2 separate regions of the Homo sapiens genome follow, and region 2 is linked to region 1. The links come from fine-mapping of genetic effects on gene expression. Tissue or cell type: esophagus muscle. Region 1 holds a variant in brackets; the other region holds the start of a gene. All regions are shown on one strand. Distances are between the middles of the regions.

What was found. PIP is the estimated chance that this variant, and not a neighbour inherited with it, causes the effect.
Region 2: SMIM38 starts here. The variant in region 1 is fine-mapped to the expression of SMIM38 in esophagus muscle (GTEx, PIP above 0.99).

Annotation. Positions count from the first base shown.
Region 1 is chr11:69,100,844-69,108,946 of GRCh38, reverse strand. No RefSeq gene overlaps it. Among named protein-coding and RNA genes, the nearest start is that of MIR3164, 22 kb to the right of the region's middle. RefSeq lists an enhancer at 6,302-6,802. The variant C/G (reference allele first, on the strand shown) is at 4,600.
Region 2 is chr11:69,152,520-69,160,622 of GRCh38, reverse strand. It overlaps SMIM38 (small integral membrane protein 38), which reads right to left and starts at 4,688. Exons shown (of 3, transcript NM_001369201.2): 1 at 4,509-4,688; 2 at 1,272-3,449; 3 at 1-1,177. The coding sequence starts at 2,776. The coding sequence ends at 2,621. The region is part of intron 2 of LOC338694 (a long non-coding RNA gene); the gene reads left to right. RefSeq lists silencers at 2,963-3,322, 6,568-6,862 and an enhancer at 4,207-5,134.

The DNA of each region.
Region 1 (8,103 bases):
AAGTTAATAAGTGATCAATAAATGCATGATCATAGACTGTGGTGGGGCTCCCAAAGGGGCAGGGGCAGGTGCTTGGATGGGCACCAAGGAGCTCCTCCCCCAGGGAGTGGGTCTGAGACCTGAAAGGCGTGTGAGAATGAGAAAAGCGTGTCGGCAGAACAAATGTGTACAAGTCTCCTGCAGCTGCTGTAACAAACCATCCCAAACTGGGTGGCTCAGAACAACACAGACTTATTTTCTCAGTTCTGGGGACCCGAAGCCCAAGACCCAGGTGTCAGCAAGGCCGCCCTCCCTCTGAAAGTGCTAGAGGAGGGTCCTTCCTGACACTTCCAGCTCCTGGGGGCTCCAGGTGTTCCTTGACTGTGGCCACATCACTCCAGTCTCTGCCTCTGTCTTCGTGCATCCTCCTCCTCCTCTCCGTGTCTTCACCTCTTCTCTCATGAGACACCTGGCATTGGATTTTGAGCCCACACAGATAATCCAGGATGATCTCATCCCTTACCTTAATTTCACCTGCAAAGACCCTTCTTTCCAAAAAGGTCACACCCACAGGTTCTAGGTTAGGATTTGGACATACGTTAAGGGGGTCATCATTCAGCCCAATCCAAACATCCTGGACAAAGGCCCTGAGGCTGGGAGGTGTAGTGCTGGCCAGTGACATGGCAGGGGTGGCAGGCTCACAGTGGGCAGGGGCTCGTGCACGCAGGCTGGGGACCAGGGTGGAGGGCTGTGGACGGCCATGGCTGAGTTTCACAACGGGGAGGGACATGATCCAATAGCTGCTGCGGGTGCAAAGACAGAGCAGAGAAGTCAGCAGTGGAGAAACAGGTGGACCATCAGGGACCACTATAGTCCTCCAGGTGTGTTGGATGGCGGGGCTGGGACAGGGGAGAGGGAATGAGGAGAGGCAGACCAAAAATGTGCTTGGAGGTTCAAATGGACTTTGTTGATGACTGCAATGGGGTGGGGTGGGAGCATCAACACCGAGCCCAGGACACGGGCATGAGCAGGTGGGTCACAGAGGCTTCTCCCAAGATGAGGAGGAGGGTGTGACCAGGTGTGATACTCTGGACAATCCTGAGGTGTGATACTCTGGACAACCCTGGGGTGTGGGGGCCCCATCTCACAGAGCTGGGATAAGAGGAGGCTGAAGCAACATTCAGGTGGGGCTGTGCCTGCATTCACTGTGGCATCCAAGGCAGTATGGTAGTCAGCAAACCCTGGTGCTCAGCAAACCCAGGTGCTTAGCAAACCCCACTGCTGAGAAAATCCTGGTGCTCAGCAAAACCCAGGTGCTTAGCAAACCCCACTGCTTAGAAAATCCTGGTGCTCAGCAAACCCTGGTGCTCAGCAAACCCCAGTGCTCAGCAAACCCTGGTGCTTAGCAAAACCCAGGTGCTTAGCAAACCCCACTGCTCAGAAAATCCTGGTGCTCAGCAAACCCTCACAGCATAGTCCCTGGATGGCAGAGCCTTTCTCAGTGTTTCTGGCATGAATACTGCATTCCAGGCCATGGGGTTTGCACTGTGAGAGACCCGTGGACCTGCCCCAGGTAAGCTCTTAGTGCAGCAGCCACTGGTCCTCTCCCAGCAGCACGGGCTGGGCCACTCCTGCCATGCCAGGTTTCAGCCTCCCCAACACCAGGGGACCTGATGCTAAGTTCTCCACAGGCCCTTCCCACTTTAAAGTTCTCCAGCTCCCAAAAAATCAGGGACTTTCCAATTTAGAAAATACCCTCACTGGATGGCCCTACCCATCCAGCCATTAGCTTCTCAAGCAGGCCAGGCAGTCCCTGGGCTGCCCACCTCTCCGCAGGCATCAGCCCCAGCACCACCTCTTGGATATGGAGCAGACACAGCATTGCCCACTGCCCTGGGCCCTCCTTACTCCTTCTCTGTCTGGACCAGTTCTTCCTCTTCCCTCCCCACATCCTGTTGCAACCATTCATGCTCAGGGATCCTCCTCTCCCCAGAAGCTGTGGCCTCTGAAAACCCCAAACTCTGCCATTTGCTGTCCCACCTGCCTTTCTGTGGCTGGGCCCCCACACAGCCAGATACAGATGCTGTCCCCTGCCCTGGTCACTCAGCAGGTGAGGGCTGGGCCCTGGGAGCCTGGCCTCTGGGTAGCCCTGAGTGGGAAGATGGTGGAGGGAGGCCTGTCCCCACTGGAGCAGTTCACCAAGGACAGGAGGCTGGGACAAGCTCCCTCCGTCCCCTGCCCACGGGCTCAGAGAATCACCCAGAGGCACCTTCCCACAGCGCCTCACTGGGCAGCCGGGCCTGGGAGCCAGGGCCAGCAGGCCTCAGGGGACCTGGAAAGTTTGGTTTTGCTTTGTGGATCTGGACAAACTGGAAATGTAAAGGGCTGCACTGGACGTACCCAGCTGGGCAAACTGGAAGTGCTTCAAAGAGCTGGGGGCAGGGCCGGGCGGCCGGTTCACACGGCTACGGCCAAGCTCAGCCCATCACTCAGGCCACCTGCCGGAGCCCATGCACCACCTCGCTGCTGCCCCTCCCCACTGCCAGTGGTCATGGACCCTGCCCACAGAGCCCCTCGGCAGCAGGGAGCTCCGGGCCAGCCAAGCGCAGGCCTCCTCCTCCATGATATTAATCAATCACATCCTGATAGTGATCAATGGAGGGCCCCTGGCAGCAATGGGCTGGCCAGCCTCCAGGCTCACCGTCCAGAGGCAGGAACGCCGAGGATGGCAAATGTGATCTTTGGCAAGGGACAGCACATTGTCTTACCGCTGTGGGAAAATGCTTAATGCGCAAACATTTCCTTAAAACGAGCTGACAAGGAAACGTTCAAGATGGCCTTATTAAAGATAATCATCCTGGCTGAACAGGACAAAAATAGATTAAGTCCCTTCTGAACTCTGAGAGCAGGATACGTGGCCCAGCAGAGCATCACTAAACCAAGGCGGGTGGCAGCGGGGAAAGACTCCACGGCTTTCCCTTGGGTTTCACCACTTGGAGAAGCTTCCCAGTCGGCTGGCGTGGAAGCCCAGCTCCTCACCCCACCCCAAGCACAGGGCAGGCGCTGAGCCCCGGGCTGGCAGAGGTAGGGAGTGGGCTGCAGGCACGGGGCGGGGAGGGGGCCTCCGGAGCTGCACACAGGAATGTCAGGGCCTGGCTTAATTTCTAAACCTGCCATATGGCCCTGCGTCCTGGGACCCAGGCTGGTGGCCAAGGAGGAGCCCTGGGGCTCGGTCCACAGCCCTCCAGGCCGGCTGCACAAAGCCATTTTTCAAAGGTGTTTCCCAACAGTCTCTCTCAAAGGAACTGCCCTTTGAGAAGCTGTCTTGGGCTCGAGCCAGGCAGGGCTGTCTGGGGGCTCTTGGCAAACGTGCCAGCCGTCCCCAGATCAAAAGTGCCTTTCTTGGTTTGCTCACTGCCTCTCTGTGCCAGGTGAATGAGCTGTGGGGGCACCCCGGGCCGGGCAAGGCCAGAGTTGTCTTACCCAGACTCAAAGATGGGGGTGGGGGCTGACCACAGGTGCGGTGTGCCCCACCAATCCATGGAAACCCCAACCCACGGGGCAATGGCTCACGTTACAAAAGATCCATGGAGGGGCCCCTTCAAACCGAAGCTCCCCAAGGACGTGGCACTGTTGCTCAGGGATCATTCGCCATGTGACACAGAGAGGCCCAGACCAAGGAAATGTAAGGCCAGAGGGCTCACAGGCCCTGCCAGCTGACGTGGCCTCAGTCTAGACAGAGAGACAGGCAAAGTGGGCACGACGGGGGTCTGTGAAACCAACCCAACCTTCATTCACCCACCACGGGACCCTCCCTTCTGGGCAGAGACAGGTGCTTTCGACCCAGCAGGTGGGCGCTGACAGCTCCACTGCCACACAAGCCCCTGGCATCTTCTCGCTGCAGACACACTTGGTGGCAAGTGCTTGCGTGTGGACGCTGCGTGGCCCGATGTCCCATCGGTCAGTGTCCAAGAGGAAGGCTCTGGGATGCCGCTTACTCAGAGAGCCCTGCACGCACCACTCCCAGCTTCACCTGTGCTGCCAGGCTGGGACCAAGTCCACCTTGGAGATGTGGCTGGCAACTGTCATCGCTACCAGGTCCATCTCGCCGCCACTCACTCCCCACCGCCCTCCAATAATGCCAACAAAACTCACAGTGGAGCCAGGGTCTCGGGGGAAAGAAGAAAGATCTGCAAGAGCCTCCCCGACCATCTCCAGATGCCTGAGCCCCAGAGCTGACTTGCACGGAGGCTGATCTGCATCGAAGGCTGGCCCCGGGCCAGGCACCTGGGAGGGCTTTGGGCCCATCTCCCACCTGTCCTCGCCTTAAGCCAACAGGGCAGGAACTGTGGTTATTCCCGTTCTGCAGATGAGGCACCCAAGGCACAAGGAGTCTGTGCAGCCAGCGGGTGGAGGAGAAGCTGGGGCCACCCCCGGAACATTTCTGAGGACACCATTCCTGGCCCTGTACAAACCGACTCTGTCATCTCCATTCGCTACAGAGAACCAGCAACTGATGCCAGTGCAGTGCAGAGAAATAACGGGCCCATTTTACAGATGTGGAAACTAAAGTTCAGGCAGGTCCAATAATTTGCCCAAACACCAAACAGCTGCAAATGG[C/G]AAGGCTGGGATCAGAAGGAAGACTGGATGCTAGAGCCTCCCTGGCCCCCATCCCTTCATTCCTGATACCTGCACCCCACTCTCTGGCCTTCACCCCTCCCAATGCCTAGCATGCGGCCATTCAAAGCAATGCTGGGTTCCGCCCCTCACCGTAAAAATCAAAAAGCTGCCTGCTCGTGAATGCTTGTGAGAGAGAAAACACCTGGAAAGGTAGAATCAGGTGCTCCTAAAATTCACATCCACTTGGAATCTCAGATGTGACTTTACTTGGAAATAGGGTTTCTGCAGATGTAATAAGTTGAGGTTATACTGGAGCAGGGAAGGCCCTGAATCCAATACAATCGGTGTCCTTATAAGTAGAGAGAAATGTGGACACAGACACACAGGGGAGAAGACACATGAAGGGGGAGACAGAGACTGGAACGATGCAGCCACAAGCCAAGGAACACCAGAGCCGCAAAAAGCCAGGAGCAGCAAGGAGGGACGCTTCCCTAGGGCCTTCAGAGGGTGCCCAGTCCTGCTGGCACCTGCACCTGGGACTTCTGGCCTCCAGAACTGCAACACAGCACATCTCCATGGTCTAAAGCCACTCAGGCTGTGGTACTTTGCACAGCAGCCCCAGAAAATCAGCACAGCACCCAGCACCCTGCATCTGGGGGTCAGCTCCCACCTGTTCCTACCACATTATTGGCCAACTGAGGATGGGAGTTGAATTTTGTTCTGGAACAAATAATAATAATAAATGCCAGAACTCGCCACCCCTGTGCTCGGGTCCCCACAGCCTGGAAGTGTGGCCTCTCTGGAAAGCATTCCTGCTTGCCCCAGCCAAGTGGGTGGCCCCTCTGTAACCTCTACCAGATTCACTTTTCCCCCATGTCTCCCGTCCAGCCCGGAGTCCGCCTCCCGGGGCCACTGCCCCCATGCAGGATGGAGCAGAGCTCGCCATCCTGCCTGCCCCATGGTCATGTGGAGTCGCTGCCTTTCAGTTATACGGCAGGACTACTTGCCAGGTGGAAAGTGGGACCATCGGCCCTGGCGCCGCCAAACACATTCTTGGCAACTGAAACAAATGCCAGAGGTAGATGAGCCAGGCAAGACTGCCTCCCAGAGGGGGCACACTGCCGGGCCTGCGAACCCTTCATCAAACCCCAAGGAGCCGGTGAACGTTTGATGAGGGTCCTGGGGTCTCAGGCCCTTCTGCCTGGGCCAGTCTCATGTCCCGCTCGAGTGACGTGGGTCAGCAGTTTCCCTCCAGCCCAGCCATGGCCATCGTTGCCCACCTGCCACCTCTCAAGGGAGGAGGGCCCCCACTCCTCCTTCCCAGCTCTACTGAGAGGTCTCCTTGCCTCCAGCCACAGAGCCCCTGATGCACCCCTTCCTCCTGGCCAGAGCACAGGCTGTGCACCGCCTGTCCCCACAGCTGAGCTAATACCGCCACCTTTGGGCACTCAGACTGAGGCAATATCCCCCACCCGTGTTCTCCTGTCTTCACTGGGTGACTTCTAACCTCAGACAGTTCCCAAAACAAATGCAATCCCTTTTGCCTGTCAGAGTGGCCAACACCACCCTGGTTTCTGGAGGCAGCCAGCCCAGGTGTACTCAGGGGCAGGCGTGTTCCAGGATGTTCTGAGCCCCAGCTCCCTCCTCTGTAAGTCAGAAGTGAGGATGCATGAGTATGCACAGCACACTTCCACACAGTGTTCCCGCTGTGGCCACCGACGGAGGTCCAGGGTCCCCCAGGCTCTGCTCTGATGCTGGCCCAGCACCCAGAGTTTTCCTTGACCATTTTTCCAGGGCTGTGCCAGAGGCTGGGTGGGCTATGCCAAGGAGAAAAAGCAGGGAGGGGGCGTGGGCAGAGCTGATGGACAGGCAGGGCACCCGGGGCCCAAGCCACTGCTGCACTCAAGGAACAGACATTGGGGTGACCTCAGCAATTGCCTGGATGTCTGGGCCTCAGTTTCCCCTCTCAGTCCTCCCTGCCCTGTCCACTTCCAGGAGAAGGGGCTGTGCAGTGCGGGGGGAAAGGTGGAGCTGTCCAACTTGGCCTCTGACAGCTCCCAACCTATTTCCCCTTCTGGGACTTTGGCCCTGTCTGCAAAGCGTGACCCCCCTCACCAGTGGCCCACTGCATCCCCAGACACAGAGCCTCTTTTCTTTGCCCCAGTGAAGGCTGAAAATGGCCTTTCCCTAAGCGCACTCACCAGCAAGGGGTGACTGCAAGAGCCTCCTGGAGACCCGGATTTCTGGGGAAATGAGGTGGAATGAGTCGCATACCCACAGAAGCGCAGGGTCTTTTGAGCACCTCACATGCCCGGGGGCACTGACGTGGCCCACCCGGGGAGAAGGGAGTCTGAGTGTCCCCACAGTGGCTGGCAGGTGGACAGACCCAGGGGATGCTCCAGCCCCACCCAGCGGGAACCCCACAGCCAGAGAGGGCCCCATCAGTACCCTGCACTCCAGGTGGCCGGCTGGCCTGGTGGTGGGAGCCAGCAGCCCACCTCATCACACCCTCTCCCCACTAAAAGCACGCTACCCTCTCTCCTGGCTAGAATCTAACAAGTGTTGGTTGTCACTGCCACCACACAGATTCCCCTAGGGTCTCTTAGGCAAGGGTTGTAAGGTTCCCAGCACAGGCCCAGGAAGGCTGCCAGGAGGAGGAGGAGCTCCTGCCAGGAGGGGACTCCCCCTGCCTTCCCAGGCCTGGTGCTGAGCGAGGCAAGGAGGGTACCAGGGCCTGGGCACTGGGTCGCCTGCCGCTAGGCTCTGCTGCCCTCCGCTGGCTTACCCAGGAACTGCGTGTGCCCAGGGCAGCATCTCCAGGTGTGTCTAGCCTGCCTACCTACTCTACCTGGCCATGCCTCTGGACATGCAGGGCCTCTGTCGCAGGCCCTCACCTGTATGCAAATTATGCTCTGAGGGCATCTTGTAGGTTACAAGCCTCCGGTACCCAGGCCCAGCTGGGACGGGCTCAGTCATGCCTGCCCTCATCTGCTAGGTCTACGATGCTCCTTCCCTGGTGCACACTGGGGGTGGCGATCGCTATTCAACACCATCTGGGGCTTCTTCAAAAGGTGATGACGTCACCCCTGAGACAAGGTGGGCATTGGGACCCAGCACCGATGTGGGACCCAGAGGTAGGAGGCTCGCAGCCCTGCCAGGAGCCCCCTCTGCTCACTTCCACCTCATCTCACACACCAGGAACCTGAGGCCAGTGGAGAAGGGGCCACAGTGCCTGTGCCCACAGAGCTGGGCTCATATCCAAGACTGTGTCCCCTCCAAGCCCAGCTCATCACTCTCTGCCCTGCCAGTGATTGACAAACCAGTGGACCAGCCAGCAGGCCTCCTCTGAGGTCTCCCAGACTGCCTGCTCCTGGAGCAATACCCAAGGTGACTGATGCCCCATGCGGCTGGAGCACTCCCCACTTGGGCAGGCAGCTTTGCACCAGCACCACCCCACCATGCCTGTCCCATGGACCCCCCAACCCTGGGCCCAGGGCAGGTTGT
Region 2 (8,103 bases), 52 kb before region 1:
ATCTTCCCTTCCACCATTTTTCCAGGTGGCTGTGTTCTCATGGGGCCGCCTTGAGCGTCTGTCCTCCCTGCCAGGCAGTCCCAGTAGAGGAGTCTGTTCTGACCCCTGGCTCCAGCAGAAGTCCCAGGATTCTGAGGCCGGGCATGGTAGCTCATGCCTGTAACCCCAGCATTTCGGGAGGCCAAGGCAGGCAGATCACTTGAGGTCAGGAGTTCAAGACCAGCCTGGCCAATATAGTGAAACACCATCTCTACTAAAAAATACAAAAATCAGCAGGGCGTGGTGGCACACGCCTATAATCCCAGCTACTCGGGAGGCTGAGGCAGGAGAATTGCTTGAGCCCCAGAGGCGGAGGTTGCAGTGAGCCAAGATTGCGCCACTGCCCTCCAGCCTGGGTGACAGAGTGAGATTCCATCTCAAAAAAAAAAAAAAAAAAGATGATGAAGTCCCAGGATTCTGGCTCACTGGACCAAGAGGTGACCTCAGGTATGTGTGTAGGTGCCATCCTACACACCCATGTGGACACGCAGGCCACACACAGGTTTACACAAAACTCTACAACTGGCAAGACATCGGCACATCATATGAATGTCTAACTCCTTCTATCCAGCGTGACCTGGTTTGCCCAGGACTGAGGGGTTTTCCAGGACATCGAACTTTCCATTTTAAAAACAAGACAGCCCTGGGCAACCCGGAACAGCTGGCCCTCCTAGCTCTGTCGGTACATGCTCATGACAACCATGTGATTTTTCTTCCTTAAAGAGATCAATGAAATGGTACCAGATCATGTTTTTAAAAAGCGAACAATATTTTCCTTAGAGATCAATGAGAATATCCCTCCCCACAATCCTACGATCAGGCGAGAATATTCAGGCAGAGCCCTGGGCTGCCGGTGGAGGTGGCAAATTGTCCGTGACACGGGGGAGTGACCATAGAGTTCTGCTGGCCTCTGGCTGATACAACAGAGGCCAAACTGAAATGGAGCACGGTAGCCCCTGCCCCTGTGCAGACTTCAGAGCGTGAATGAGAAGGGACCCTCTGCAATAGGTCATCTTCACGTCACCCCCTGGACACCTCAAACTCTTGGTCGGTCCCACCCCAGATGGTCTCGGCTCCTGCTCACCAGCACCCCCGTGTCTGTAGCTCTCTTGAATGGAGGATCTGAGCACAGCAAGTCCTGTAGAAACCAAAAAAAAAAAAAAAATTTCCTTGGCATAGGTGAGTGTATCGGGTGCCGCAGAAACAGTGATAACAGCGTTTCTGGTCCTCACCTGGGTTCATTCAGCCAGGACACAGCAAGGCAGAGGCTCCCAGCCAGTGCCCCACTCCATGCCCACCCTGGGGGTCCACTCGTCCCAGTCAGCAACACCAGCCCTGGAACCACCATCTAAGCTCCTGCTCTTGCTGGACGCCCCCAAGTCCTTTCAGAATTCACAGGAATCACCCCCTCTGCGAGCTTCGTGTTCAGAGGACTTGGCCCACGTTCCCTGAGCGAGCATCCCTAGCATACCCATCACCTCTCAGGGAGCAAGACGTTGCCACATCACCAGGCCCAGCCTCCCAGAGACGATATCTGGTTCGATGCTCCTCCCTGGAGCTGCCGCCCACAGTCCCTTCCATCTCACAGTTCCGCATGCAGTCAGCAGCCCTCGCTGCAATCCACGATCTGCTGGAACGATCCCAGGAAATACAGTGTGGAACTTGGACATGGGTGTTTGCCGAATTTCCCCCAAGAGGCTCGAATGTGGAGCCTTTGAGCTTCCCCAAGCTGTGGGTTAAGTCACTGGCATCACGGCTAACGTGCTACGGAGGTGGAGCAGGAGCACTGGATGCTTGGCCTCAAATCAACTTCCCTGCCCTGTCAGCCTTCCTGGGCACTTCCCAGCCACACACTTGCAGGAACAGATGAACAGAGGGCATTGATGGGTGCCTTGGCTTGTCCCCTAAATTGTCCCCTACATGATATCCTGCTGAGGGAGGGAGGCAGGGATCATTGTGCCCTAACTGTTCAGACCGTTAGAGAGTGTGCAGAGGGTCAACCAGAGCCAAGTGCGTCTGGCTTGTCAACTCAGCCTCACAAGTGCGTCCTGAGACCCTTCCCAGGGGTCTGCTCTGGAGAAATCAGGACAGCCATCGGCACTTATCTCGTCCCTTGGGAGGCAGGAGGAGACTAGTTATGAGGGTGGTGAGCTGAGACAGGACGTGGCCTTTGGTAACAGGGCCAGCTTGTGATGAGGTCACATTTGTCTCTGTGGCACCTCCACCTGAGTCCTCTGGCTTACCCAGCTCTTCCTGCAGGCATATTTATAAGGAATTGGAGGCAGAGAAGGTCTTAAAGCAAGACCCACCCCCAGGACCACTCCCTGCAACCGGGGACCCCAGAACCTGGTGATGGACCTGCAAGGCCGGCCCCTCCATCTCCCCACATGGCCAGCTGCCTCTACGGGACAGCCCTGGTCAGTCTGGGAAGGCACGATCCATCTCAGGCCTCTCTGAGCTCCTGCCCCAGGGGTGGGACATGGGGATCATGCGCCTGCCCTGCTCCCCTCCCTCCCACCACCACTGGAAGGGCCGGCTGAGTCTCGGGACAGGGCGCGTGGAGGCCGCAGCCTGCAGAGGCTTAGTCCTGCTTGGGTTTCTGGGGCCGCCGCTGGGCCAGTCTGTAGTCGATGTAGGTCCCGAGGCAGGACCACAGGATGAGGCGTGCTAGCAGGATCACCACCAGCAGGGCCAGGAGCGGGTCAGGGCCAAAGCTGCCACCTGGCCAGGAGGTCATGCCTGAAGTCAGCCCCAAAGGGCAGCAGCAGCCTCTGCCCTGGAACCGAGATGCAGTGGGGCCCTGCCACCCTAGCCCGGCACTGCCAAGTGGCTGCTGTGCAGACCCAGGACAGGAAGCTCCGTCCAGCCTGGGGCCTCTGCAGCCGGCGCCCCCAAGGGACCGCCCTGTTCTCTCTGGTGCCACCAAGCAGGCCAGATCTGCCCGCCAGACTCCAGCCCGGGGCCTCCCTGGCATGTGAGAGGACAGACTGGGGACGACGAGCAGCCTCCTTGGTCAAGAGGCCCGTGTACCATTCATCCAGAATTAACCACTCTCCGTGCTGACAATGACAGCATTGTCCAGGGGCCTGGGGGGCGGGAGGCCGCCGGGAGCCCGCCCCCCTCGCTGTCCCCGCGCCCCCTGCTCGCCAGCGCTGACGTAATCTGCAAACATCCCCGGCGGCAGCTGCTGGGCGAAGCGGCCACCTCCTCCCGACGCTTTCAGCAGCCCACGCGGCTCTTCCGGCCCCGCCAGACAATTGGGCCCTTTCTCTCCCCAATTAGCTATCACTTCTGGAGGCCGCGCCGTCCAGCGCCGGCCCACGGTCTCCGCAGCAGCAGGCCCGGGATGGGGCGGGGGCCGGGAAGCTTGGCAGGGAGGCTGGGGCCACCACGGGGAAGAAGGACGGAGCCTGAGGATGAAAAGCCAAGGAGAAAAGGGGAGAAGATGAGGACAGGCGGCCACAGCCCACAGGCGGCCCCAAACACAGCTCAGCAGCACAAGGACCGCGCTCTGGGCCTCTGATGGCAAGGGGGTCAGCGCGGGAAACCGGCTTCATCCCCCAGGAAGGGGACCGGTGGACCCCCAGCAGCACCTCCCTCCAGCTCGCCCCTCCAACCTCCATCAAGAAGCCTTAGGTGGGACCTGTAGCCCTAAGCTGGGGCGCACAGGCCTGCAGGGTCCCCTGACATCCTCACAGTCACCCTGGACCGGAGGCCAGTCCTGCCTTCTACTAGCTGAGTGACCTCGGGCAAGTTGTGCAACCTCTCAGAGCCGCAGATCCTGCCTTAGAAAGTGAAGCAAATACCTCCTGCTTTGAAGGATTAGGGGAGAGAGCACTTCTCAGGGGCCACGCCCAGCGCCTGGGCACAGAGATCCTGGCCCCTGCCTCTCAGTGGATGCCTTCAGAAAGGCCTCCACATCTTTTCTGAAATAACAGTGTCTGCCCAGCCTTCTCTGACTGCCACACGCGCGCACACACACACACACACACGCATACACATGTATACATGTGTGTGCACACAGACTCACACGTGTGCACACCCAATAAGGACACATTGACCTCTACAGGCTCTGCCCCCCAAGTCCAGCTCTGGCCTCTCACAGCCGAGTTTCTGTGAGTGAGAGATAAACCGCCAGAACTGCCCCCTCTAACTCCAAGCCTACATCCTGTAAAGCAAAGGGGCCCCAGTTGGAGCTAGGGGGCTGAGCGTGAGGAACAGAGGTCTCTGGCGGCTGGGTCCTGGGAGTCCGGCCAGTTCTCACCAGCAAATGTCCAGCCTGAGCTACAGAGAACAGCAATGGGGGCCTTCCTGGCCACAGGGATCTGGGGCCCATCGCTGGTCGCCGGAAGCCAGCTCTTCAGTTCCTTCCCAGTCTACAAAATGAGTGTCCTCCCTGCCAAGCCTTTCCAGAAGGTTCAAACGGGACCACACGTTCAAACGGGAAGTGGAGCATGATGCCAACTCACCTTGGGCCGGGCACCGCCTAAGCTGCCTTCCCGCAGCCACCCTGGAGCCCCTGCCTGGACTGGCAGAGGCTGTCTGGGAAGCATGCCTGGCCCTTCCTCCATCTGTGGTGTGCCCTGCACCCACTGGGCTGCCTGGCACTGCTGTCAAAGGCCACTCACTTAGGGAACGTTGAGCTCTGGGCTTGTTTTCCACGCGCAGCGGTTTGAAGATCACTTCGAACGTGGGTGGGGAGTTAGCTCTCTGGACCCCGTCATAGAGTAAGTCATCGATAGAGCATTTGCTTGATGGGGACTTCCAGAAGGCCAGGGAAAGTCCTGCCGACTTCCTGGGGAAGCCCATCCGCACGTGGGGTGAGGGTCCCCAGATGGGAGCAGCTGTGTATGCAGGGAGGGGGCAGAGGCTGCTGCCAATGGGCATGTCCCTTACCTGAAAGGGCCACCTCTCCAGGTGACATGTCCTGGGGGAGCCGGGGCCGTCTGCTCCGGCCAGAGGCGCTCAGCTCAGGCCACACCAGGCAGGGCACCTCCCAACCTGGACAGGTGGGGACCAAGGTGGCCTTGGACAAAACTCTCTGTGTTTGCCAAGCACCCAATCGGACACAGAGAGTCAACCACACCCCAGTCACATGGTGTCCACACGCAGGGGTCAAGGAGGCCCGGCCCCTCCCCCTCAGACGTCCCTGGGCCTCTGGGAGTCAGCAAGGACGAGGACGGCATGCCCTTCGAGACAGGAAGGGAGTGACCTCCTCCCAGCGGCATCCAGGCTCGGCTTCTCCGGAGAGGAGAGGGGGCTACTTGCTGGATAAAGCGGCCGGGGCCACAGAGAAAAAGCAAGTGACCATGAGCACGTTGCAGACACAGTGCACCGACAGCATTGCAGCACGGGGACTGTGAGACCTCCCATTCTCGGGGGAAACTCCCCAAGTCCCCCCACCATCAGCAGTGATGTGACTGGGGCGGCGACCTGTGCTGGGAGCCTCCACCAGCTCCTGCGCCTCAGGCCCTGCTGCCCTGCACCTTCGCTTCCAGTAGGACCCTTCTCCAGGGCATTCTGGGCCACAGGAGCCACCCCAGTGCACAGAGACCCGAAGGCCCAGGAAGTTCCCTCCCCCAGGCAGCCCTTAACCTAAGGCTGACCTGGGCAGGACGTAGCCCAGCTTCCCTGCTTTGGACCAGGACAAACTAGAGGCCACTCTGAACCCCCAGAGCTCCCCCTGAAAATCCCAGGGACGTGCGGCTGTGCCTGGAGTCGCCCCCTTCCCAGACTGCTCCCCTTCATCTTGCCCTCCCTGCTCCTCCCTCCTGTGTCTCCCCATCACACCACCCCCCGAGTTACCCGCCTGTGAATATAATCCAGGATAAGAGTGACGAGCGCCTCATCAGCGCAGACCCAGACCCCGCCAATGGGAACGCATGGAGCTGGGCGGTGGTGGCTCCCAGCCCCGGGCCTCTGAGGATGGATCCGGGGATGCTCCCAGCCCCGGGCCTCTGAGGATGGATCCGGGGATGCTCCCAGCCCCGGGCCTCTGAGGATGGATCTGGGGATGCAAGTTGCCATCGGGACCTCAAAGAGCCAAGGCATCTTCCTGCACCCAAATGTTCAACGCTGACAGAGCAGTGAGTGACGCACCCTCACTCACTGTTTCCTGATGAAATGCTTGGCAGAGGAAACCTCTCCACAGGTGAGCTCCGTGGGGAAGGCCTGGAGTGGAAGTAACAAGGAGGTGCAAGTTCTTGCCCCCAAAGCCTGGTCCCCGCCCAGGACCAGCCCTCAGTACAGGTGACAGCCTGGGACAGAGCCCCAAGAACCTTGTGAACAGCTTCCTGTGAGCCCCAGGCAAGCTGGTCTCCACTGAAGCATCACTGGGCCTCAGTTTCCTCCCCTCAATAAAAGGGGAAAATAATCCTAGCACTTTGGGAGGCCGACGTGAGAAGGTTCAGGAGTTCGAGGCCAACCTGGGCAACATGACAAAACCCCATCTCTACAAAAAAAAAAAAAATACAAAAATTAGCTGGATGTGGTGGTGCACACTCGTTGTCCCACCTAGCTAGGAGGCTGAGGCAGGAGGATCACTTGAACCTGGGAGGCAGAGGTTGCAGTGAGCCATGATCAAGCTACTGTACTCCAGCCTGGGCAACACCTTATCTCAAAAAAAAAAAAAAAAAAAAAAAACGGTGAGGGGATGATAATCCCTTCCCAGCTTCTGCAAGCAAGGCTGGGGATAAGAGTGCTTTGCAGGGGAAATCCCCGCCCAAATGTCATCGAGATGAGCTGGACTTGGCTGACTCAAATGCAGGACCCAGGAATAATACTGAACGCCCTCCCCCAGGGACCACCAGGCACATCCCCCAGGGCCTCAGTGTGTTGGTTGGTTTTGTTATTTTCATAGCACCAACATCCTCTGAACTCTTCCATGTGTTTCTAGAACTCGAGCTCTCGCCGAATCCCCCAGGACTTAGCACAGTTCCAGGCACCCAGAAGACTCTCAGCAAGGACGGCCACGTGCATTGGAGCTGGGAGGCCAAATTAAAAGAAGCACGTGTTTTCCTTAGAACAGATTCCGCCAAAATTGTAAAACCACCACCTACAGCCTTGTTGACAGTGAGACATTCTCAGACATGTCAGGGTCCTGTTGAAAATCATTTTTTTCTTTGTTTCTTTTTGCAACAGCAAAATATGCTTGCTTTAACCAAAAAAAAAAAAAAAAGCAACCATGGCAGAGATGGGTGAGTTGGGAGAGCATGAACATCATCAACTCTTACTCCTGCCAAGACGGAGCACAGGACATGAGGACCCCGTCCAGGGCCCACGGGGAGCCTGAGTTCCCACCCCACGAAGGCCTGTGGCCCATCACCTCTTCCCCTGAGAATGCTGCATCTCAAAACCCCAGCCGGCGCAGGCTGCCGAAATCAACAGAACATGCATTTCAAACCGGGTTTCCACTGAAATGCTCCCTACACACAGACGGGCGAAAATTAATTTTCTTTCTTCCTGCGCCACAAAAGCAGATTAAAATCACGAACAGTGGGACGAGTGGGGGGAAGTGGAGGGCTTCCTCATTGAGGGAGACCCCTGCCCGGGAGGTTTCTCTCCCTAACAAGGGATGGCCTCAGCCGTTTGAAACGCCCTGCTGCAGGCATAAAGCCCGACCCAGGAGAAGGCACTTGAGAAAAAGGACGCCGCTGCCCTCCCAACGGTTGAAAGCTGGTATGTAACTTTGCTCGGGGTGATCAAACAGCTAGTCAAGGACGCTGTCAGGAACAGAATGAAATTCCAAATAAATTAGCCATGTCCAGAAGCCAATACAACACCGGATTAAGGCTCACAAAGAAAACACAATTTATTCAGCCTACCTTGTCAGAATTCTTAATAACCCCCCTTCCTTTCCCTCACCTCAGGCTGAGAGTCCCTGGGTGTGAAGAGACAAAGTGAACCCCACTCGGGACGCTGGGCGTCTGGTGTAGACGCTGGGCATCCAGTAGATGCGCTGGATGTCTGGTGGAGCATAAGCGTTTACAAAATCGTGTTTTTAGGAACATTTCAGCGGGGGCCATACACAATCGCGTAGGGAAGGCAAGCTGTCCCCAAGTCCCA